Homo sapiens: one gene and its partners. The protein of the gene in region 1 purifies or fractionates together with the protein of each later gene. This does not show direct contact. Each region holds a gene or a part of one and is shown in the gene's direction. Other genes may lie near its edges.

Evidence for each region.
Region 2: the proteins of CFAP298 (region 1) and ZC3H4 purify together in Homo sapiens (affinity purification with mass spectrometry; one large-scale study listed by BioGRID and IntAct). This does not show direct contact.
Region 3: the proteins of CFAP298 (region 1) and GLRX purify together in Homo sapiens (affinity purification with mass spectrometry; 3 studies listed by BioGRID and IntAct, with this or other methods). This does not show direct contact.
Region 4: the proteins of CFAP298 (region 1) and FLG purify together in Homo sapiens (affinity purification with mass spectrometry; 3 studies listed by BioGRID and IntAct, with this or other methods). This does not show direct contact.
Region 5: the proteins of CFAP298 (region 1) and SERPINB8 purify together in Homo sapiens (affinity purification with mass spectrometry; 3 studies listed by BioGRID and IntAct, with this or other methods). This does not show direct contact.
Region 6: the proteins of CFAP298 (region 1) and SERPINB7 purify together in Homo sapiens (affinity purification with mass spectrometry; 2 studies listed by BioGRID and IntAct, with this or other methods). This does not show direct contact.
Region 7: the proteins of CFAP298 (region 1) and CDSN purify together in Homo sapiens (affinity purification with mass spectrometry; 3 studies listed by BioGRID and IntAct, with this or other methods). This does not show direct contact.

What each region holds. Positions count from the first base shown.
Region 1 is NC_000021.9:32,598,854-32,602,377, reverse strand, and holds the end of CFAP298 (cilia- and flagella-associated protein 298), read left to right. Parts: exon of another isoform or gene 1-10; coding exon 11-106; coding exon of another isoform or gene 107-154; exon of another isoform or gene 155-404; coding exon 405-515; 3' UTR 516-3,024; downstream 3,025-3,524. UniProt on the Homo sapiens protein: Plays a role in motile cilium function, possibly by acting on outer dynein arm assembly. Seems to be important for initiation rather than maintenance of cilium motility.
Region 2 is NC_000019.10:47,093,277-47,096,776, reverse strand, and holds part of ZC3H4 (zinc finger CCCH domain-containing protein 4), read left to right. Parts: intron 1-2,168; coding exon 2,169-2,388; intron 2,389-2,696; coding exon 2,697-2,807; intron 2,808-3,500. UniProt on the Homo sapiens protein: RNA-binding protein that suppresses transcription of long non-coding RNAs (lncRNAs). LncRNAs are defined as transcripts more than 200 nucleotides that are not translated into protein.
Region 3 is NC_000005.10:95,816,538-95,819,726, reverse strand, and holds part of GLRX (glutaredoxin-1), read left to right. Parts: intron 1-3,100; coding exon 3,101-3,189. UniProt on the Homo sapiens protein: Has a glutathione-disulfide oxidoreductase activity in the presence of NADPH and glutathione reductase. Reduces low molecular weight disulfides and proteins.
Region 4 is NC_000001.11:152,322,440-152,326,625, reverse strand, and holds the start of FLG (filaggrin), read left to right. Parts: upstream 1-1,386; 5' UTR 1,387-1,437; intron 1,438-4,186.
Region 5 is NC_000018.10:63,987,081-63,989,874, forward strand, and holds the end of SERPINB8 (serpin B8), read left to right. Parts: coding exon 1-198; 3' UTR 199-2,294; downstream 2,295-2,794. UniProt on the Homo sapiens protein: Has an important role in epithelial desmosome-mediated cell-cell adhesion.
Region 6 is NC_000018.10:63,785,418-63,788,917, forward strand, and holds part of SERPINB7 (serpin B7), read left to right. Parts: intron 1-3,500. UniProt on the Homo sapiens protein: Might function as an inhibitor of Lys-specific proteases. Might influence the maturation of megakaryocytes via its action as a serpin.
Region 7 is NC_000006.12:31,117,647-31,121,936, reverse strand, and holds the start of CDSN (corneodesmosin precursor), read left to right. Parts: upstream 1-1,490; 5' UTR 1,491-1,517; coding exon 1,518-1,602; intron 1,603-4,290. UniProt on the Homo sapiens protein: Important for the epidermal barrier integrity.

The sequences.
Region 1 (3,524 bases):
CTCTTTGCAGAGGGGACAGGGAGCTCCAGCCCGAGAGCCTATTATTAGCAGTGAGGAGCAGAAGCAGCTGATGCTGTACTATCACAGAAGACAAGAGGAGCTCAAGGTAGCAGGGGACAGATGGGCTTTCTGCAGTGCTGGCGCCCACACATAGCCTGTGTGCCTTACCTGGGGCTGCTGGGGAGCAGTGAGCTCTGCAGAATGCCGGGGAGGGGTCTTTCTAGAGCTTCTGTCTGCAGGTCTGTCGGGGTCCTGCCAGGTGTCCCCTGGTGTTAGACATGGCAGTATCCTGCTCCTAGAGGGCAGGGAGAGGGGGAGGTCAGTCATGGACTCTTTCTTCAGTCTCTTTATGTGCAAAACACTTTCCTGAAATGCCTGCCTGAATAAAACATACTTATTTCCAGAGATTGGAAGAAAATGATGATGATGCCTATTTAAACTCACCATGGGCGGATAACACTGCTTTGAAAAGACATTTTCATGGAGTGAAAGACATAAAGTGGAGACCAAGATGAAGTTCACCAGCTGATGACACTTCCAAAGAGATTAGCTCACCTTTCTCCTAGGCAATTATAATTTAAAAAAAAAAAAAAGGCCACTTACTGCCCTCTGTAAAAGATGTTAACATTTCTAGTTTTCTTTTAGTGTGAATTTTTAAAATAGCAGTTATTCAAGGTTTTAGAACTTAATAAATACCTAGTCAGAAGAAAATGTGTAAATCGTTTTTGTTTCAGGACTATTTAGTATGTCATGGTTTTCTTTGATAAAATACTAAACTTTTGGCCGGGCGCGGTGGCTCACGCCTGTAATCCCAGCACTTTGGGAGGCCGAGGCAGGCAGATCACGAGGTCAGGAGATCAAGACCATCCAGGCTAACACGGTGAAACCCCGTCTCTACTAAAAATACAAAAAATTAGCCGGGCATGGTGGCAGGCGCCTGTAGTCCCAGCTACTCGGGAGGCTGAGGCAGGAGAATGGCGTGAACCCGGGAGGTGGAGCTTACAGTGAGCCAAGATCACTGCCACTGCACTCTATCCTGGGCAACAGAGCGAAACTCTTGTCTCAAAAAAAAAAAAAAAAAAAAAAAAAGCTACACTTTTTTTTCTTCCTGATTGTTTTATATTCTCATGATAACTGGTTTATTGGAGGAAAGCTGATGACTGGCAGTGACCACTAGTGACCACTAGATGCCGCCAGGCACTCAGCATGCTTTTTCTCCTGGCCCTCTAGATCTATTGGAAGCTGAACTCCCAGCCTTGCTGGAGAGACTTCTCTAACCCTGCTGCGGGGTCTAACTGTAGCCTTCTTTAACCCTGCTGCGGGGTCTAACTGTAGCCTTCTTTAACCCTGCTGCGGGGTCTAACTGTAGCCAGGCGTTGCCTGGCCTTGAAGGTGAAGTTTGCCTCCTGGTTGGTGCCTCTCTGGCCTTGTATTCTGGGAGCGAAAGCTACAACCATGATGAAGGTTGAGTAGCAAACTCATCTGACTTTGAAACTTAAATTCTTCTGGAGTTTCTCAGCTTCTCAAGTCTCCTTCATGAGAATAGATCCTGAAAACAAATCCAGATCCCGGTAGAGGGTGATGATTTCTCCCTATGGATGCGGGGTCTGATTCTAGGCCAGCTTCGTACGCAGCTCAGTGACCAACCACGGGATGGATGGGATCACTATCATCCTAACTGAGTATCTAGGACACCATTGAGTTTAAAGACTCCAACTCATCATCACTGTAAACCATCCAAGTATCCTGCAAACCCTGGCACTTTAGCATCTGAAAGACACCTGCCAGACTGCCTGTGGCAGTCCCTCATGCTTGACTTTTGGTGCCTAGGGTCCTGTTCTCCTGGTTAGAGGGAACTTGGTGTGCTCACACTGAGGGAAAGTGAAGGACGCGGGGCATCTTCCTGCCCTGGCCTTCCTGCCTTGGTGCCTGCGCTCCCCACCATCCTGCAAAGAGGAACCCTGGGAGTGAGTGGAGGTGGCAGGGGTTTGGTTCCTGCCTGCTGCCAGGCGGCCTTGCCCAGGGGGTGGGTCCCAGACCTGAGAGCAAAGCGCTGTTCTCTGAAGTGCTTTGTAGCTGACTGCATCTTGTGCCTTACTCTTTTGGTTGATTTTCAAATTTTGTAAAAGCAAATTTGCATCTATTTTCTCTTTTACTTGGTTATAGTTTTAAATGTCTCTATGAAAGGGTTTTGACCTTGGATGATGTAGTATATGCAATAAGATGCTGTGATTTTATTTCAGGAGCATCCTGTCTTTGTCAGTGTATAGTTCGTGTGTGTTAAATTCATGCTCAGACTTGTAAGAAACAGTTAACCAAGCCATGTGATCATAGTAGCTCTTTTCAGGGAACTACTACTTCAATATCATTAGAAAGTCTTACTGAGCCTGCAGTAGGAATACTCTTTTGGCCGTGATAGTTATCCCATTGCTTCATGTAATCAGCAGAACTTACTAACCAAAAAGTCACTCACGCATGACACTACACTCCTTAAATACCCATGCGAGAAGAACCATCCTCTCTCCCTGCCCTTGTCTGCCTCAAAAGCCTCTCTGAGCTTGGTGTGTTTGGGTGCAGCAGATCTCAGGAAGTACGTGAGTAGCTTATTTGCAAGCCATCTGTGACGGCGGGGGGCAGGTGGTGCCCGCTGTGGCACCGTGCTGTGTGTGTTCCCTTTGCATCCACTTGCTGACTCACCCAAGGTCACAGGTAGCTAGTGGTGGTAGGACCACAGGGTCACGTCCAGGAACTTTCCCAGGATTTCCCAAGAAATCAATTTATCAACAAAAGTAATCTTGCCAGTGTTAGACCACTGATCAGCTTAAGTCTGTGGTCTTGTTGTTATTTTCTTCTTTTTTTAATCCAGTCCCTGTTTGAGTCAATATCAAAAGGAAACCAAGTGTCTGCTGTATGCACGGTGCCCATCTAGGTCTGTGGTTTTGTCCTTTGACATAACTTGTCTTCTTATGTGGTTCTTTCATGGAGACCAGGAATGCTAGTAATAAAATTTGATACCACCTAAAACCTTTTCGACCATCAAACTGACAGCATCAGGCAGTATTTCTGTCACAAGATTACCTCGTTCCTTGGCAACTGCTCTGCAAAGAGTGTGCCATCAAGCTTGAAATGAACTGCCACATACTTGGAGCACAGTAGCCTTGAGAGGGTCTGAGCTCACTAAATTCCCTTCCAAAGCCTCAGCAACCACCCCCTTGAAGAAGTGACCAGAGAGAGCTGCTTGCCCCGACCTCTTGCCGTTCCTTGCAAGATAGGAGTTGCCCCTCTACACTACCAAAAACCCACTGGCCCTGGACAGGGCTCAAGGAGAGAGGTGGCTGATTTCCAGGAGAAGTTCGATACTAGACATAACAGTAACGGCAGCTGGCATTATGGGGACTTTGCTATTTCCCAGACGGTTGTACTAAGCACTTTACCTATATATTCTTTTCGTTTATACCTAAAAACAGCCAAATTAGAAAGAAACTACTATTGTCATCTCACGAGTTAGGAAACCAAAGTCCAGA
Region 2 (3,500 bases), on another chromosome or scaffold:
GCATTTAAAATATTAGTGGCCTGGGTGGTGATCATGTCCCTCTCAGCTTTATCCCTTCTAGACTTAAGTGTCGAGAGTAATGTTGTTCTTAGCTTTTCTTTATGGAACCCCAGCATGTATACCTCCAGTCTGTCCCGGGCCTTCTCCCGCTCAGTCTGTCCGTCTCTCCCTTTCTCTTGAGGTGTGGCCCTGGCCTGCCCCCAGTATTCCCATCAGGGTGCCACCTCCCAGTGTCTGCACAGCTCCTGGCGGCGGGCAGTTTGCCATGTCACTGAGTAACAGCTTCTCCCTTGGGACAAAACCAGTTTTCCCAGTCATGTGGCCCTTTTCGGTGTGGGTGAGGTGTCCAGTGAGGACTTTGCTCCACGCCTGGTTTCTGTGGGCCGCACCCCAGCGGGAAGGCACCTCCCTTGTCAGGACTGCAGCCTGCACCCCCGCCCCATTCCAAGTTTGCTAGTCGGGGAAGCAACACAAGGTGCACATGGGTCAGGTCACCTGTGTTGTTGACTTTGAAGCAGCAGAAAGAGTTTTGTGTCCTGCATTCTGTTTTGAGAGTTGCCCTTGACCTCTGCCCAGGGGTATCTGTGGGGCTGGGCCACTTGGGTTTGAAATAGAACCCATCCCCTTTGAACTGGGAGTGAGAGTTCATAGAAAAAGCTGCTCTTGAGGCGCTCCTTGATGTTTGGGTAGCAGCCCCAAGGCAGACAAAGGGAGGGACATAAGCGAAAGGACAGTGGAGGGTCCTGGGAGGAGGAGTCTGCCACATGCCCTGGAACCTTCAGGCAAGCACGCCTAATACATTGGCTCCCGCTTGGGCAGCTGCGGGCCTTTCCGCAGAGATAGCTCCATTTGTGGCTAACCTTTTGGGGCCTGGGCTCGTGATGTTTCCTCCTTACATCACTTCTCTTTGTGTCCTAGTTAATTGAGACGGAAGGAGTTGGATGCTCTCACGCAAGCCTTTTTGTGGTCATTCATGGGGAACTTTGGGAGCTTTTTAAAATTATTCAAAAAGATTGTTTTTTTCCTTTACCAACTCCTGTACTTGTGAACACTGTGTCTGTGGGTTTGGCTCAAAAACTGGATTCTTTTTCCAGCCTCCCCCTCCTGAACCCAATTTCTTCCTCACTCCTACCCCACCCCATAGATATTTACATATGCAGAATGTCCACTGGGCAGTGTCTGTCATGTTTGGAGAGCACTTTTAAAGTCCTGGAGATTGGGGTGACACGGGGGAATTGGAAGAGTGTAGGATGGGGAGCCAGAAGGGGTTCCACTATCTGGAGGTGAGTCAGAGGAGGGAGAGAAAGCAGGGCCGGTATCATGTGAGGCCCTCAGGAGGGGCCTGGGATCCGTCCCCCCTCCTCCAGCTGCTCAGTGTTTGCTTGCCTCCGGCCTAGAGGTGTGGGACTGACGAGGGTGGGTCAGACCTTGTGACCTGGGACTCTGAGCCTGTTTCCAGCGGTTCTCATGGGGCTTTTGTAATAAAGTACTTGGAGGGTTCTCAGGCCACAGCCCAGGCCTGCCTGTGGGTGGGTCCCAGGTAGCTTGGGGCCACCCCTGGTTCAGAACCAAGGCCCTCTCCACGGTGCACAGCCACCGCCCTCAGCCTCAGGTGGCACTGACGCCCAGCTCACTGGGGCCCGGGGCCCAGCAGGCAATCCTGGGCCTGGGAGGGAGGGGATGTGGGTCTGTGCTCCCTGGGAGAGAGACTTCTGTGGTCAAGCAAGGTTTAGAAGTGCCCCAAGTGCTTCACAGCAGAGCTGTGTGGGTTTCTGGACTATGGGGCTTCCTGGAAGTTGTGCAGCGTTAAGCATTATGAATCCCCAAGATGGGGCTCTTCCTGCTTATGTGACCACAGCACCTTGTCGGTTTCTTCTTCTAAGAACACTAGTTCTGTTGGGAAATCTGGCGTAGATGTGTCCCGGTGTTAGTGGTAATGCCCTTAAACTCCTACCCCTCCCCCAGCCAGGTTAGACTGGAGCAAGCACAGTTCTTTCAGGGGGAGGATAAGGGATGGAACAAGAGGCCATGGCCCCCATGTCCTCCCAGGGTCTCACTTCGCTCACAGCAGTCAGGCCTTCGGTTCCTGTCAGCCTTGGCCAGCCCAGAGCCCTAGGAGGTCTCCTCTCAAACCCTGTGTTCATGGTGGGATTGGGGTTTGTTTGTAGGGAAGATGGAGAGTTGGAAGAAGGTGAATTGGAAGATGATGGGGCAGAGGAGACCCAGGATACCTCCGGAGGGCCTGAGAGAAGCCGGAAAGAAAAGGGGGAGAAGCATCACAGTGATTCGGATGAGGAGAAGTCCCACAGGAGACTGAAGCGGAAACGGAAGAAAGAGCGGGAGAAAGAGAAAAGGAGGTCGAAGAAGAGGAGGAAATCCAAGCACAAAGTAGGTCGGAGATCCCCTGGGACTGCCACTGCCTGGCATTGGGCCTGGCTGAGAGCCCCAGGGGCTGAGCTTTTGCTGTCCACCCCAGAGGGCACTCTTAATGCCTTTGCTTATCTCAAATTGGATAAAGACCTTTTTTAAAAGAGTTGGTAGCTTATGCTTCATTGCCACTAAGTGCCCCAGGTGAGGTGTTTCAGGTGAAGCGCAGAGCCCTGCGGCACATGCCAGCATAGTTTGTCCTGAGGCTGACTGTGCCCGAGTGGCCTGCCTGTGGCAGGTTGCTGAGTCTCCTTCCCCTGTCATTACAGCGCCATGCTTCTTCTAGCGATGACTTCTCTGACTTCTCAGATGACTCGGATTTCAGCCCCAGTGAGAAAGGTCACCGCAAGTACAGAGAGTACAGCCCCCCATATGCGCCGGTGAGTGACTGGCATGCACTGCTGAGCTCTGGGGCCGGGAGGAGTTCAACTGCTTGTGTTTCTTGAGCACTTGCTGTGTTCTGGGCATTTTTTGTGAGTTTCAGTCCTGGGCCATCAGGTATTAATTTAATCCCCATTTTATGAGTGAGGAAACTGAAACTTAGACAATTTCAACAAGGCAGCCCAGACAACCAAGTGAGACCCCACAAAAAATAAAAAAATTAACCAGGCATGCCTGTAGTTCCAGCTACTCAGGAGGCAGAGGTGAGAAGATCCCTTGAGCCCAGAAGTTTAAGGTTGCAGTGAGCTATGATCAGCCACTGTACTCTAGCCTGGGTGACAGACAGAGCAAGATCCTGTCTCAAAAGGAAAAGAAAATTTCAACAGGGTTGCCCAGCTCTCTGAAGTAAAGGAGCTGGGATTTGAACCCAGGCCCTAGCTGACCTCCATGAGGCATGTTCTCGAGCCTCCTCCATGCGGCCTTAGCAAGGCCCTGTATGTCTCAGAGAAAGATGCTGACTGGTCCACGTCACGGCTGACTGGCTTCCACTGTTCACAAATGACCTTTTTGGGAAATTGGCAAGAGAATGAAATGTTCTCAAGTAGCCAGTAGGCAGAGGTTAGATACTCAGCCACTGTCGCTCTCATTTCAAGCAGCAATTTAAATTATTTGTTCAGTTTGTATACCATTTC
Region 3 (3,189 bases), on another chromosome or scaffold:
GGGTTTTCACTGTGTTAGCCAGGATGGTCTCAATCTCCTGACCTCGTGATCCACCCGCCTCAGCCTCCCAAAGTGCTGGGATTACAGGCGTGAGCCACGGCGCCCGGCCTGATCCTGCAGTCTTAATTATTCTATAAAGTAGCTGTATCTAGTAGGTAATCAGCAGGACATGATTATGGAAAGTTAGTGGCTTCAATCAAGCCATGTACTTGGTAAAACCTGTTTTTGTTTTGCTATAGTCACAGCTCCTAAATTAGTGCCTTCATTTATTTCTCCTCTAATGCACTTTTCTTTACATAGATCTGAGTTTCTGAACTATATCATTTCCCTTCTCTCTGAAGAACTTCTTTGGGCATTTCTTGCAAGGTGATTCCATTGGTAACACATTCCCTCAAGTTTTGTTTACCTTAGAAAGTATTTCTCCTTCGCATTTGAATGATGATTTTACTGGATGCAACAAATATTTTTAAGCACCTACTATGTACCAGACACTTTTATGTACATTGGGGAAAAAATTCTGCCTTTTCTGCCATGAAAAAAACCCTTCTGCCTTTGTTGAACCTATATTCTAGTGGGGGAGACAAACAAATACAGTAATAAAACAGTATGTTGGGAGTTGGTAAGTGGCACGTGCTATGAGGAAAAGTAGGAAAGGTAGGGAGGAAGCATCAGGGTCCAGTTTTAAATGGAGCCATTGGGTCTCACTGAGAAGGGAACATTCGAGCAGATATCTATAGGAGCTGAGGGAGATGGGTGTACACAATTTACAGGTAGAGTGAATGCAAAGGTCCTGGGGTAGACGTTTGCCTGGCAGGTTTGTGGAATAGTAAGGAAGCCAGTATAGTTGCAGCACTGTGAGCCAGTAGGAGAGTTAGTGGAGGTGAGGTCTGAGAGCTAATAGGAGCTTGGAAGAACTGTGACTGGTACTCGGTGTGAGATGAGATGCCCCTGGTGGGTGCTGAGCAGACGAGTCACTTGATCTGACCCCATTTTGAAAGGGCCACTCTGGCAGCTGTGGGGAGAAGAGACAGTAGGGCAAAGGTGAAGGTTGAAGCTGGGAGACATTGGGAGGCTATAGTAGTTATTCAGGTGACAGATGAAGGTGGCTTATACCAGGGAGGTAGCCGAGGAGTGTTGAGAAATTGCTTTTGAGTAGTTGCATTTGTGTAACCCTAGCTAGCGTACAGGAGATGTTGCCTGGCTGAGGCTGGGGAAACCTAGTGCAGGAGAATAAGAACCACAGGATTACCAAACTCGTTTTGGGGTGGCAGTTCTTTCCTCTCCTTGACAGTAGCGGACTCTCAAGTTCCTCTAAAGAGGAGGCTGGGACGGGAAGGGACAGGAGGGGAAGCAGCACAGGGTATTTCCTCTTCTTTGCTCAACTTTATCAACAGTACTTCTTGCTTTGGTTTCACTGCCACAGCACCCCCGTGCCGTCTGTACAGCCTGCCATTCAGCTCCCGTTAGGGGTACCATTCACTGATACGATTTATGGCAGTTTTGCAGTTGTCCAGACTAGAGGATGGGTGTGAGGGTAAAGGAGCCTTTCGCTTCTTTGCCAGACACTGAGCACAAAACTCCACGCTGGGAGCAGCCTGGTCACATTTCAGGGTCATCTCAGGAGGCTGGGGGGCAGCTCCAGGGCTGTGGGTTTTCAAAGCCTCAGTTATCCTGTGAGAGCACAGGGAATAGCCATGGAAATGTGCAAGATTTGTTTTTAATTTTTAGACTTTATTTTTAATGCCTACCTTCACCCAGACCCCCTTTTTAATAAAAGTGCTGTAAGAACTTATCCACAATAATGAAGCCCCTTTTCTCACCTTTCTCACTTTTTGGACAATTTGCTCCAATTATTATGCTTTCTGAGGAAAGCCCAAAGCTTTGAAAAATAGTCTCATTGCTTTCTGCCTCCACCTCTCCCTCCCCTCCAGTGCGTTCCTGGTACTCGGGGAGAGGCCCGCTGGCTCTGATGACGCGGTGACCTCCATGGGGCTTTTTTCTTCACTGCCAGGCAGCCTTGGTGGAACACTCCTGGCCTATAAATTCAGCCACGTTGAGGGTATTTCCTCCTCCCTCGCGATTCTAAAAGCCCTCTGGAATTCTGGAATGTGTCTGCTCCTAGCAGCAGGGAGGAAGTGTGTAACTAGAGAGGAGCCTATTCAGCAGGTGTCATGACTGTGGCTTGGCGTGGGTGACGCACCCTCATCCGGGGTGAGTTAACCATCTTATGATGGACCAGCGATTAAAGGAGACTCAAACACCACTACACCCCCCTGGTTGAGGACAGAGCTCACTTGTGTTGCTTTGTTTTGCTTTCTTTGTTTTGCTCTGTCGTCCAGGTGTGAGTGCAATGGCACCATCACAGCTTACTGCAGCCTCGACCTCCCGGGCCAAAGCAATCCTTCCACTTCAGCCTCCTGAGTAGCTGGGACTACAGGCATGCACCGCCATGCCTGGCTAATTTTTGTATTTTTTGTAGAGACGGGGTCTCACGATGTTACCTAGGCTAGTCTTGAACTCCTGGGCTCAAGCGACCCTCCCACCTCAGCCTCACAAAAGTAGTAGGATTACATTCATGAGCCACTGTGCCTGGCCCTCACCTGTGTTTTAACAACACAGAGAGATGATTGTACTTAATAAACCATGGACCTGAAAAATCAGAGACGTAATGCAAATACTTTTCCAGCTGTATTTAGAAACGAACTCCTTCCTTCCTGATTGCTGTGACCCAGTTTACAATCTTAGGTGTGGTCCCTGATGCAGAGAAAGCAGAGTTCAATCTAGGTGGTCTGACTGCAGCCAATCAGAATTCTCCTTCTGAAACATGTTTCTGTAGAGTGAAATTTTTAAATCCCTTTGACAAGTTGGACAAGCTCATGCATAGCACACAACTTGAAAACTCTTCTGGCGTAAAAACATTCTCGAGTTAATAATGTTACCCCTTATAACAGAAAGGAAGTCCTGTCCTGTGAGCATATACATAAGGAGGTTTTAAAGTGATTTGAAAAGTTTGGAATCACGGGAAATATTTAGTGGTAGGATAGAAATGTTCTGTCTAATCTAGTAATGTAGTAATGTCCTGGGTCGTGTGCTTTTTTAGGTGCCTCGAGTCTTTATTGGTAAAGATTGTATAGGCGGATGCAGTGATCTAGTCTCTTTGCAACAGAGTGGGGAACTGCTGACGCGGCT
Region 4 (4,186 bases), on another chromosome or scaffold:
GTCAAGGTAGTGGAGGATAGCACGCAAAGATTTTGAACAGTAGTGGACCAATATGGGCTCGTCCAAGAAATATTGCTCATTCTAGAGTGACTTTTCCATGAGATACAGGTAATAAGAGGGACAATTGAAAAGATACAGATTCATGCCTATTGTAAAGGGGCTTGTACGTCAGGTAAAAAAGTCTGAAATTCTGCAGGCAAGAAGAAACCAGCACAGCGAATGACATAAGATGGTAAGCCAGCTTAATAGTAGAGAGAGAGGCTAGTTACGACACTTTTTTTTCTTTACCAATACCCAATTGAAAGATGGTCAGGTCCAGAACTAAAATTATAGCACTGGAGGTAGAGAATAGGCCTACATAACAAAATCTAAGCCTGAGTATAATTGATACGATGTGACATGAGCATGAGGGGTTAAGGAAAAGGAGAAATGAAAATGACTTTGTCTAGCTTGAGACACCCAGTGTGTGGGGGCATCATTACCAATATATGGGCTTCTGGAGGATAGTACATTTTGGTAGGAGGCACAATGTAAGTTCAGTTTTCAACACTATGGATTGAGATAACCATGGGACATCCATATGGAGATGCAATCTGCTCAACATAACAGTGTGTATATCATAAGACAGACCAGGGATAGGAGTCCCCTGTATATTTATGGCAATAAAAGAAAATTCATGGTTTAAGAAGGAAGAGTATGTGGAACATGTCTCTGATGCCACGATGTAATAACCTTGAAAACAAAGTAAAATTACACTAATGAGTCTTGCCTAATTAAACTCATGCTCCTAGTGATCACCACTTCTAGTTCAATTGTTCACATTCTTGCTCTGCTTTGAAAAATTAAAATTAAATTTGCCTATCCTCTACTGACCATAATTTCTAGAAGACGGCATTCATCTCATGGCAAGTTCTTCAGTACCCAAAGATGGAATACATAGATTAAAAAAGAACATATATGTAGATGCTTGTGATGTTTTCCTATCATAAATTGAATTTCAAGTTCTTATAAACGTATTAATATGTCCTACTCTTCTAGAGACAAGGATCAGGAAGTGTATTTATCAATAGATATTTACCAAGCACCTGTCAAGCCAAAGTGGGGTTACAGAAAAGTAGGTATGGGCCCTGCACACAAACAACCTGTATTAGCCAAAGGGACCCTTCCATAAAATTTCCAATATGTAAACCCAAATTTGGAACTTGCTGAAACAAGTACAGATGAGTACGTGAGGAAGCTGGGAAGTAAACACAGGTTGCTGGAGAAATAGAGGTGGAGATATGGGTGGATCTAGGTTTGGTTAGGAATGAATCAGACCATCCCACAGAGGGTGGCTCCTCCCTGCATGGGGCCTGCTATAAAAGGGCCATTATCTCAGCCTTCAGTACCCAGCAGGCTCCTTCAGGCTACATTCTATTTGCTCTTTTGGTGAACAAGGTAAGAAGGAATACATTTAATTTTGTCTACTTACTATTAACCAAGGTGGAAATCTGAATGTATGTGTACTGTAAGGCAAAAGGTTCTGGAAGTTTAGGGTTTTTCTCTTTCTTTTTAGTGGCACTGTCACTAAAAGGTTTATTTCTATATAGAAGGAAAATGAGGGCATAAATTTGCTTTCCATGGAGCTACTCAATACTCTGTATTGTTAGATTGTCCATTTATTCATTTACTTAACAAATATGTATTAACTACCTTCTACTTGGTCTTGGCTCTATCTATGCAGCAGTGAACTATATAAACTCCTAGCAGCTTACCTTTAATAGGGGGAAACATTTAGTAAACAACAATAAACAAATAAGATAATTTTAAATAGTGATAAGAACAATGAAGAAAATAAAAGAGTGATGTAGTAGAGCAGGGGTGTCCCGTCTTTTGGCTTCCCTGGGTCATAATGGAAAAAGAATTGTCTTGGGCCACACATAAAACACACTGACACTAATAATAGCTGATAAGCTTAAAAAAAAACTCGTAATGTTTTAAGAAAGTTTACAAATTTGTGTTGGGCCACATTCAAAGCTGTCCTGGGCCACAGATTGGACAAGCTTGTAGTAAAGTGATGGGAGGGAGGAGGAAAGTGCTTTAAATTAGATGGCCAGGGGAAGACCTCTCTAGGGAATTATCTTTGAGTTGAGATCTTAAACACAAAAGAAACTAGCCAAGGCAAAGGGCAAGATTCTAAGCAAGAGTAAACTTGTCCCAAAGAGCAAAAAGAAGCTAGTGTGCCTTAGAGCATACATAGTTAAAAAGAGGACCAGTGGTATATGGTGATGTCAGAGAGCTAGACAGCGTAGCTCATGTAAAGAGGGGCACAGTAGAATTAAAACAGTACATGTTAGATTTTAGCATGTACTTAAAGGGGTATTAAGCAGGAGGAGTAAGATAATCTATGTTTTTAAAAGACCACTCTGGGCTGCTACGTGGAAAACAGGAATATAGGAAGGCAAGAGCAGGAGCAGGGAGAGACTGCATTCTTTTATGTGAAAGATGATGGAAATAATAGAAATAACGAGAAATAACTGTTTGCTCATACCAAAATCTAGAAGTTATCCATGATTCCTGTTTTCTCATCACACTGATTCATCACCACGTCCAGTCAACTCTGCCTACAAACCTGCCAAATCTATCCATTTATCCCCCTCTCTGCCATTATCATCCTAGTCCAGTCTACCTTCATCTCCCAACACTGACTATTATGTTATCTGAAAATATAACAATTTATTCATCCATTTGTCTATGGGTAGATACTTGGGTCTCTTCCATTTTGGGGGGTATTATAAATAATAGGGCTATGCACTTTTTTGTGTACTACTTTTGGTTACACATATGTACATATTTCAGTTGGGAATATTCCTAAGAGTAAATCGCTAGGACTTAGATACTGTCAAACAATTTTCCAAAGTGCTTCTGTCACTTTATGTGCCTCCAGCAGTACATAAAAAAAAAAAAAATCTCAATTCTCCACATTCTCACCAATATTTGGTATTGTCAAGGATTTTTTTCTTTCTTATCTTTTTAGTCACTTTGGTGGGTGTATTGAGGTCTCACACGTTATTTCAATTTGCATTTCCCTAGTGCATAACAAGGTTGAGAAGTTTTGATATGTTTATTGGCCATTTGGATATCCTTTTCTGTAACGTTCCTAAGGTATTCATTTTTCCATTGAGTTAACTGTATTTTTTATTGATTTATAGAAGCTATTTTTATATTCAGGACAGATTCCTTTATTGGTTAAATGTGTTTTGTATATCCTCCCACTGTGTGGCTTGTACATCTCTCTTCTAATGCTATCTTTAAAAGAATAAACATTCCTACTTTTAATGCAGTACAATTTATCAGTCTTTTTCTTATTAATTAGTACTTTTTGAATTTTATTTAAGTATTTCCCCACCCCGAGGTCCTGAAGATATTCTCCAATGTTATCTTCGTTTATCTCTTACATGTAAAATCAACCTGGAAACTATTTTTTTTCCATTTGAAAATTCAATTAACCCAGCACCATTTATTCAAGACTATTCTTTCTCTACTGACCTACACTACCATCTTTGCCATTAACCAAATGTCCAGAGTGATATAAGACTGACTTTATACTATTATCTTTTATCATTCCATTTGTTTAGCCTTGCATCATGCCATATTTTCTTCCTTTATAACACACCTTGCTATCTGGTATGTCTTCCAACTTAGTCTTCTTAAAGATGGTCTTACCTAATCTTAGCCCTCTACATTTTCATATAAATTTTAGAAATCACCTTATTAATCTTTATTTTTTAAAAAAACTTCAGATATTCAGAATGGGATTTCATTGCATCTATAAATGAATTTAAGGAGATTTGATATCTTAATGCTATTTAGACTTTCAGTTCATAAACAAGCTATATATTGTCCATTTATTTAAATCTTTATCTCAATATTTATAATTTTCTGAGTATAGCTCTTTCATGTTTTCTTAGATTTATTCCTAAAAATTTCCTCTTTTTTTATGCTTTTATGAATAGCCTCCTTTCCTATTTCATTTTCTCAGCACTTATAATCTCAACTTTTATAATATTCTGAGTACAGCCATTTCATATCTTTAATTAGATTTATTCCTAAAATTTTTCTGATTTTTTTATGCTTTTGTAAATAGCATCTTTTCTTATTTCATTTTCTAAGTGTTTATTGCTGTTATATAGAAATACAATTGATT
Region 5 (2,794 bases), on another chromosome or scaffold:
CTGTCCAAGGTTGCCCACAAGTGCTTCGTGGAGGTCAATGAGGAAGGCACAGAGGCTGCCGCAGCCACTGCTGTGGTCAGGAATTCCCGGTGCAGCAGAATGGAGCCAAGATTCTGTGCAGACCACCCTTTTCTTTTCTTCATCAGGCACCACAAAACCAACTGCATCTTGTTCTGTGGCAGGTTCTCTTCTCCGTAAAGAGGAGCAATTGCTGTACATACCCTCCTTTCCTTCTACCTATCTTGCCTTAATTAACATTCCCTGTGACCTAGTTGGTGCAGTGGCTTGAATGCCAAAATAAAGCGTGTGCACTGGATAGTGTGTGAAAGTCTTTGCTGAAAGTTCCAGAGCCATTGAGAATAACTGAGGCCGCAGATGCATGAAATTTGGGCCTGGGAAGGCTATGCTGGTTTTGGAGTGTTTGGGGTGCCTGCCATTGCCTCTGCCTTCACCTAAGTCTGTGCCCATTGTTTCAGGGGATCTTATGGAGCATCTCAGGGCTTCAGGAGCCAGCCCTCTTCCATCCGCCCGGCTCTGCCCACCACCACTGCCAGGCTGAACAGGGGACTAGTGCCCAGGTGACACTGCACACAAAGCCAAGGGCAAACCCTATAGAGTAAAGCTGCAGCCACCCTGTGTCTCATGTGCAGCTGAAATAGTGATCTGCTTCTGTCACTGTCACATAGACAGCCCTGCATGCCCCCTGTCTCACACAGTTTGTAATGAAGACAGCTCCTTCTCATCTTTCCATAAGCCTGAGATACAAGTTCAGGGACTCAGCAATGCACTTTAGGACTGAGCTAGGAGGCAAATATCTGAAGCTTGCTATGCTGTTCTTTCCATTCCTTTTCCCTCTGAAACACACAAAATACCAAAGGAACTTACGCAACACACCACTGAGTCCTCTAACTAATCATATGTGCTCAGACACAGCTCAAGCACACCCCTTAGTTAAGAAAGAACCTCCATATACATTAATTTTTTTCTGCCTAAAAATAAAATTGCGTTGTGGCAGCAATTTGGAAACTACAGCAAAGTCTCCAAAAAAATTGAAGTCACCCACAATTCCAACACACAGCAATCACTGCTGTTAATAGTGATATACATCCTTCCCTATTATGTGTATGCAAATAGAAATTTATAAGCATTTTACTACAAGTTAATCATATCCTTCAGTAGCTTATTTCTTCCCTTATGAAAAACCTCCCTTAAGATCTTTCCAGGTCATCAATTTGATGTGCATAGTATTCCACTGTGTGGCTGGATTTCTATAATTGAATCTAATTTTAGACAGTTTGAGTAATTAAAATTATTTCTATTAACAAATAATAGATTGCTAATAATATATATTATGCTGTTTTGGATATACTAAATATTTGCTCACATCCTTAATATATTTTTTAAAATTCCTAACAATAGTACTGTTGAGATAAAAGTTGAGCACATTTTGAGACTTCTTCCAAATTGGTCCCTAGAAAGTTACACTGGTTTGTACTCTCACTTATGTCACTGTTTATACCACCACTGACTGCTGCCTGCTTTATTATTTCTTTAATGAGTTGGACTGAACAGTGGTTAATCCTGACTCTGTTTTTGACTGACAGTTAACAGTTACATGAACCATTCATATTACAGCTCTTACTTAAATTTGACCAAGCCAGGATATATCTGTTAGGCCACATTCATTTAGGGATCATGTTTTCCAAAGCAGGTTTGGGCAAAATTAATCCACAGGACTGAAAGGTATACATCTGTGAGTTTTGTTCTCACTTCCACCTCTAATTTGAAGAACACTTTAATTGACACAGAATACATTTCACATATTTAACCTCTACAATAAGTTCTGACACATTTTCCATGAAACAAACCATCGCTATATTCAAGATAATGAACCTATCTATCATACTCCCAAATTCCTTCTTGCATCTTTGTAATTTCTCACTCTTCCTTCTCCCTCTCCCCGTCCCATCCCAACCACTGATCTGCTCAGGCAACTACCAATCTTCTTTCTGTCACTATAGATTAATTTGCATTTTTAAAGAAATTTACATACATGGAACCATACATCATCTATGCTTTGTAGTATGACTCCTGTCACTCAGTACAATTATTTTGAGATTCATTTATGTTATTGTATGTATCAATAGTTCATCCCTTTTATTGGTAAGTAACATTTTTTTGTATAGGTATACCATGATTTGTTGATGAACAAATTTACCTGTTGATGAACATTTACGTTGTTACCAAGATTTTTGCTATTGAAAATAAAGTTTTTATGAATATTTATATATATACATCTTTGTATGGACATATGTCTTCATTTCTTTTGTATATAGATACATAGAAGTAGAATGGCTGGGTCATATGGAAGGTGTAAGTTTAACTTTTTAAGGATCTGCCAAATTGCCTTTGAAAGTGGTTGTATCATTTAACATTCCCAGTAAAGCCTAGGAGAGTTCTGGTTTTTCTCTCTTCTCACCAATACTTGGTACTACCAGTGTTGTTACTTTCAGCGTGTACCGGCTTTTGGTTGCATTTCCCTAATGCCTAATTATGTTCAGCATTTAAAAAAATGTGCTTAGGCCGGGCGCGGTGGCTCACGCCTGTAATCCCAGCACTTTGGGAGGCCGAGGCGGGCGGATCACGAGGTAAGGAGATCGAGACCATCCCGGCTAAAACGGTGAAACCCCGTCTCTACTAAAAATACAAAAAATTAGCTGGGCGTAGTGGTGGGCGCCTGTAGTCCCAGCTACTCGGGAGGCTGAGGCAGGAGAATGGCGTGAACCCGGGAGGC
Region 6 (3,500 bases), on another chromosome or scaffold:
CAATCCTTCCCAATAACTTTAAAATATTTTTGCTTTCTGACAAGACGTTCTGGGCTTGTCTTGAGTTATCTTAGCTCCAAAAGGAGCTCAGCTATTCCTCATGAAACTCTGGCTCATTTACTCTATTAAATATATAGTATAGAGTAAATATATATGTTTACTTGATTAAAGTCAAGAATCAGTGTGCTTGAGGTTCAATGCAGTTGAAGTGCCATGAAGGCTGCTCACCATTTGAGTGAAAGAGCTGGAAAAGCGTATTTACTGACAAAGTCATGGGTTCAGACTCATGGTTTCTTTTTGTTGTTGTGTTTTGTTTTTTTTGTGTGTGTTTTTATTTTCATTTAGATCTAATAATGCTGTTCTTTCTTATAGTGTTTGAATATAAAAGTATTAAAAAGTGATTTTCCTATTTCGTAAGCTACTTACTCCTCTCTTCTCTCACAAGACATTTCCATTGAAATGCTTTATATATATATATAATATACGTATATATACACATATATAATATACGTATATATACACATATATAATATACTTATATATACACATATATAATATACGTATATATACACATATATAATATACGTATATATACACATATATAATATACGTATATATACACATATATATAATATATGTATATATAATATACTTATATATACATATATACATATAATATAAGTATATATATGTATATATGTATATATATACGTATATACATATATACACACACACACACACACACACACCAGCATGGCACATGGCACACACACACCAGCATGGCACATACGTGTATATATATATATATATATATATACACACACACACATCCACACATTTCCTTTGAAATGCATTATTTTATATATTATATATAGTTTGGATTACACGTTTGGATTATATATGTATGAGAGCCATATGTTTGGACTTCCTTCTCTCAACGTTTCCATTGAAATACATTATGAAATATATACGTATACACACACGCATATATATATTTTTCTAAAGTTATGTTTGGATTACAATATTATTTAAAAGTTGTACAAATTTGTATTTTCTAAAATGCAACTGAGTTTTACAAAAAGCATTTAAAAATAATCACTATAATATATTACGTATTCTACCACTCTCTAAGACGAAATAATAGTTTCATAATTTGGCATGAATATGCAGGTAGAAGCCCAAGGATGATTCATAGTATCTTTTTTTTTAAAAAAAATCCTTAATCCAAATGTCCTGAAATTTCTTAGACTGTATAGACTCATGATTTTCCTCATTGCCATCATCTGAATTCATAAACCATTTATCAGAAAGAAAAATTCTGATTTCCCTACATAAGCACATGAGGGAACATGAAAGTATAGCACACTTTGTATTTCAGATAGAAACACCAAAGAATTAGATAAGAAAAGTAAGAAGAGGAAGAATTGTGATAAACAAGCCCTTTGAAGTTTTATCTAATATTTATCACACATAAATATTTACTGTAGGTTGAATATCCCTTATCTAAAATGCCTGGGACCAAGTGTTTTGGATTTTGGATTTTTTCCCATTTGGGATTTTTTTAGATTTCAGCAAGTTTGTTTATACATGAGATGGGATAAGACCCAGGTATAAACATGAAATTCATTTATGTTTCATATACAACCTATACATATAGCATGAAGGTAATTTTATACTACATTTTAAATCTTTTTATTAATGAAACAAAGTTTTGACCGTGACACATCACATGAGGTCACATATGGAATTTTCTACTTGCGTCATGTTGATGCTCAAAAATTTCAGAATTTGGAGCATTTTGGATTTTGGATTAGGATGCTCCACCTGTAGCATCATTATGTGTCTTTAGTCATGGTAGTTTTACTGTTGAATCTACAATTTCTTGGATTTTTGTAAAGATAAAAACAGATATGTATCATTTCAATATTTGACACTTCTGTTTACTAAGATTCAATTAGGAATATCAGAAAATCAACCAAATTCATATCAAAAGAGAGTAATATTAGTAATGATCAAAGAACGATGTTAAATATTTAAACTTATTAAAACTTTATTCAAAAAGTTAAGGAGAATGACTTCTGGATAGTTATATAATTTTAAAATTATTGCCTGGGTGCCACAAGCATTATCTCAGAAAAGATGTTAGTATGTTTGAATCACTTTAACATGGTATTTTATATTTTTGTTCCATGCACATATTCCTAAATAATTCTTTCCAATGGTAGCTTTAGGACTATTAAAAACAAAACAAAACAAAACAAAAACCAAAAAAGAATTGCAGGGAGTTGTTAAAAAGTTACAGTCTGTCTTAAGAAAAATTTTGGCTAATGAGAAGGGGAGATTCCTTTCTCTGCAAGGCTTCACATGAATTACTACATTCTTTTTACGAGGTACAGTCACAGTCCACATAATGACATTTTGGTCTATGATGGACCACATATATGAGGGCAGTACCGTCAAATTATAATGAAACTGAGGTATTACTATTGTCTAGTGATGTTGCAGCCATCATAATATCATAGCGAAATGCATTACTCATGTGTTTGTAGTGATGCTGGCATAAGCCAACCTACTGGACTGCCAGTTGTAGAAAAGCCCAACACATACAATGATGTACAGTACGTAATGCTTGATAATGGTGACTATTACTGATTTATGCATTTACAACAGTATACTTTTAGTAGTTATTTTAAAGTGTACTCCTTCTACTTACGAAAAATAAAAGTTCGCTGTGGAACAGCCTCAGACAGACCCTTCAGGAGTGATTCCAGAAGGAGGCATTGTTATCATAGGATATGATGGTGCCATGCGTGGTAATGCTCCGAAGACCTTTCAGTGGGACAAGACGTGAAGGAAAAAGACAGTGATATTGACAATCCTGACTCTGTGTAGGCCTAGGCTAAAGTGTTTATGTCTTACTTATTCACAAAAAAGTTTAAAAAGTTAAAAAATTAAATAAATACAGCTCATAGGATAAGAATATAAAGAAAAAATATAATTGTACTGTTGTATGATGTCTTTGTGTTTTAAGACTAGTGTTGTTACAAAAGAATCAAAATGTTTTTAAAAAATAAGAAGTTTATAAAGTAAAAAAGTTAAAGTAAGCCAAAGTTAACTTATTACTGAAAACAAAAATATTCTTTATAAATGTAGTGTAGCCTAAGTGTACAGTGCTTGTGAAGTCTACAGCGGTGTACAGTAACATCCTAGGCCTTCACACTCATTAGTCACTCGCTGACTCACCCAGTGCCACTTCCTGTCTTGCAAGTGCCATTCATGGGAAGTGCCTATACTGTTTTACCAGTTTTCATCTTTCATACAGTTTTTTACTATACCTTTTCTATTCTTAGATGTATTTAATACACAGATATTTACCATTGTGTTACAACTACCTACAGTCTTCAGTACAGTAACATGCTATACAGGTTTGTATTTGGGAGCAATAGGCTATACCATGTAGCCAAGTTGTATAGTAGGCCATACCATCTAGGTTTGCATGA
Region 7 (4,290 bases), on another chromosome or scaffold:
AAGACTAGATGGCAGCCACTAGCTGCACGTGGCCAACCACATCATTACAATTAATTAAAATTAAAGCTCCAAATCTTTGGTGGTTAAACTTGCTCCATGTGGCCAGTGGCTACCGTATCGGACAGCACAGACAGGAAACATTTCCATCCTCCTGCTGGTCTGAACTTAAAGGGCGGTCAGGAGGTAGAGGGAATGGGAGAGACCAGGCCAAGGGGCCCAGGGACAGAGCTGCCTTTGTGAGGAGATGAGGTTTGGGAAGTGAGTTTGGGTGAGGGGAGCAGGGGTGTCTGAGGCCTGGGGGAGGAGAGGGCAGCTTGCTGGACTCCCAGGCACCTCCCTCCGATACTGATACTCCCGCAATACTAGTGAGCAATTAATTGGCTGGGGCGGGGCAGGGGCCAGAGCAGGAGGGAGGCCAACGCAATGGAGGAGAAGCCACCACCCTCTCAGCAGATGGCAGGGCTCCGGTTCTCCTGGCCTCCTTTCATCCTTTGAGGACCCGGGAGCCTGCCTGGCCCTCCTCGACCTGCCCAGAGCTGGCTGCTGCTTCCTGCTCGCTCATCCAGCCCAGGGCCAGCAGATGGGCTATGGGGCCACCACCTTCCCAATTAGCCTTCTTAGCCTCTTGCTCACCCTTGAGGTCTGGGTTACCAGCCATGGGGAGGGGCTGTGAGTGCCCTGTGAGTAACCAAGGCCCAGCTTTGACAGAGGTCATCAGCCCAGGCCCCTCCCCTGGCTGAGCCCTGGCTCCCAGCACCCCCCCACCCCCGCCACCATGCCGTCCCCAGAGGCCCCCAGAAGCGACAGGTCAGGGAGTTGGTTTTGGGAATGTGGTGCCCCATTTCTGAGAAGGAGAAAGTTCCCCAGGTGATGGAACACGTAATAGGTATGTGGCTGGCCTGGTACTTGGGGAGTGGTGGGAGGGGGAGCCTGGGGGATGGGGGCAGAACTCATATTTGAAGGAGGAAAGTGGAGGTGGAGTGATGGGGTCCTAAGGAAGGAGCAGATCAGGGGCTGTGAATGGGACCTCATTGGGGTTGGGTGGGTGGGGCTGGAGCGGGCACCCAAGTGTGGAAGAAAAAGCTGAAACACCCACGACTGCGAGTGGAGGGCAGATGGAGAGACAGGCCAAGCTACGGTAGGCAGGAGAGTTAAGGAGCCAGGCAGCTGGGTCCCGTGGCAAGAGTGGCCGCCCCAGAGTGGGTGGCCGTGGGGCAGAGCGCCTGGTTCCGGGTTAGGCAATGAGGAGCCGGGGCCAGGCCTGTCAGGTGGCAGGATCGTTAGAGCCCCGTGGCCATGGGTACCCCACACTGCAGCCACTGCTGCTGCTGAGTAGGCAGATGCACCGGGCTGATTACCACGCTCCTCCCGGCCACACCAACTTCCCCTGGGGCACCCACCCCCTCCACCTCTCCTCCTCTCCCCACAGTGACTCCTGCCCAGGGAATGTCCAGCTCTGGCATAAAGGACCCGGGTGTCCTTGAGCTGCCATCAGTCAGGAGGCCGTGCAGTCCGAGATGGGCTCGTCTCGGGCACCCTGGATGGGGCGTGTGGGTGGGCACGGGATGATGGCACTGCTGCTGGCTGGTCTCCTCCTGCCAGGTAGGAGGCTGGGGGCCCTGGGAACAGGAGGGAGGCGGGAGGGAGACTCCGGGAGAGGACCCAGCGAAGGGGACAGGCAGGGGCTCTGGAATCTGCCTTTTGAGTCTGGGGGTTGCTCCTCACTGTATGGTCGCCTCAGGTAAGTTTCTTAAACTTCCTGAGCCCCAGTTTCTGAAACTCTGAAGTGGGGTTAATGACACCTAACTCTAGTCTGTGTGTCTCAAATTAAATAATGTATGTGATATGTACTTTGGAAATTCTAGAGGTTTATATAAATGGTGGTGGTGATTTTTATTATGGGAGCACTACAAGATAATGATTGGACATTTAATAGTAATAATATCATTTTTAGAGCCTTTTTATATGCTAGACTCTGTTTTAAGCACATTTGGATTATATATTAGAACTTTTATTTTTATTTTTTTTTGTGAGATGGAGTCCCACTCTGTCTCCAAGGCTGGAGTGCAGTGGCGTAATCTCGGCTCACTGCAACTTCCACCTCTCAGGTTCAAGCGACTCTCATGCCTCAGCCTCTAGAGTAGCTGGGACTACAGGTGCCCATCACCACACCTGGCTAATTTTCTTTTTTTTGTATTTTTAGTAGAAACAGGGTTTCACCATTTTGGTCAAGCTGGTCTTGAACTCCTGACTCAAGTGATCCGCTCGCCTCAGCCTCCCAAGGTGCTGGGATTACAGGCATGAGCCACCACACCCGGCCTATATTAGCACTTTTGATCATTACAAGAACGGTATGAAAGGAGATTTGCTATTTCCACTCTACAGATGAGGACACTGAGGCTCAGAGAAGTTAGGAAAGTAGCTCAAGATCATGCATTAGAAGGCAGCAAAGCCAAGATTTCAACCCCAGGCCGGGCAACCCCTGGACCTGTGTTGTTGACCACCGGGTACTTATAGCCCTTGAGGAATTTCTGCGACCTTCCCATGGTCTAGTGGGTGGTTGGTGTCTGAGGGAATAGCGAAAGAGAGAGGCAATGCATGGTGGATTCGTGCAGAGGACTGAAGGGAATTGGCACAGCTGGGGTTCGGCGTGGAGGTGCATGCAGAGAATTTCTTTCTGAGGAGAGAACAGGGACATCACAGAGGATGGCAGTCTGGTTGTTGGTGGAGGGATCAGGATGAGTGGCAGTAATAATTCATAATATATAATGCTTTACACTTTCTAAAACATCTGGCCGCACATGATAGCTTGTGCCTGTAATCCCAACATTTCAGGAGGCCAAGGCAGGTGAATCGCCTGAGGTTAGGAGTTCAAGACCAGCCTGGCCAAGATGGTGAAACCCCCTCTCTACTAAAAATACAAAAAATTAGCTGGGTGTGGTGGCGGGCACCTGTGGTCCCAGCTACTTGGGAGGCTGAGGCAGGAGAATCGCTTGCACCAAGGAGGCAGAGGTTACAGTGAGCTGAGACCGTGTTATTGCACTTTAGCCTGGGCAACAAGAAACTCCATCTCACAAAAAAAAAAAAAAAAAAGAAGAAGAAGAAAAAACTTCCAGGTGGATGATCTCATTTAGTTTTCTTCATAGTAATGCTGTGGGAAGGCAGGGAAAATTTGGCCCCTCTGAATGTATAAACTAAAGCTCAGAGAGGTTCAGTAACTTGCTAGTATGTGGCTCTGTTTGTAACACGTGGGACCTGGAGGGGCTAGGGAAGGCAGAAGGAACGCAGGTGAAAGAGTCATGGAGGAACCACGGGGTAAGTTGGGCCTGGGGTTTTGAGCAAAGGAAAGGAAAGATAAGGAAAGATGTGGCTCCACATCCCTGAGGGAAGTCAAGGCAGCAGAAGTCAGATGAGGGGCTGGACAGAGGCAGGTGTGCTCAGAGAGGGAAGCTGATTGTGGCCAGGAGCCTCGGAGGTTCGTGGGGTTTCGTCCTGGTTCCCTGGGCTGGGCCAGCGAGAGCAGGGCTGGCTCAGGGTGCGGTGTCCTGACACACTGGTACCAGCAGGTTCTGAAGCAACAGGTAGTGACCCCACATCCTGGCCCCCACCCAGCTTTACTGGCATGGCCAGTGCTGAGATAGGAAATAGGGTTTCCATTCCTGACCCCAGCCTGGGCTCTCACGAAGAAGCTGGTGACCAAATCTTAGTCCTCGAGTGCCCTTTCCTTTATTTCAGCCCCTCTGCCCCCAGCTTTGTCTTTTTCCAGTGTCTCCTTCTATATGTGTCTCCACTTCTCAGCCCTCCATTGTTTTGCCTTTTGTCTTCTTCCCTTTGGTCCCACTGTCTGGCCCAGGATTTTTCCCCTAAGAATTTACGCCTGGACTCCTCAGAGCCTCAGTTTCCCCAATTCTCTGTCTCTTCAGGGTCCTTTCTTTTAGACCTACTTGTTCCTGCCCCTTCTCCATTCCCTCTTCTTTTTAAAAAAAATTTTAATTAAAAAACAAAATACAGACGGGGTCTATGTTGCCCAGGCTGGTCTTGAACTCTGGGGCGCATGCAATCCTCCCACCTCGGCCTCCCAAAGTGCTGGGATTACCGGCGTGAGCCACTGTGCCCAGCCCCCTCTTATATTCAATGTATTCCTTTGAGGCCACTCACTTTGGCACCTAATTTTCTATTTTTCTGGTTGGTGTTTGCCCACCCTTCCCAAACAAAGAAATGCCTTTATTCGGCCACCTCAATATCCTTTAGAGACAATAGCCAGTTCTTCCTCCTTTCTCCATCCCTAAA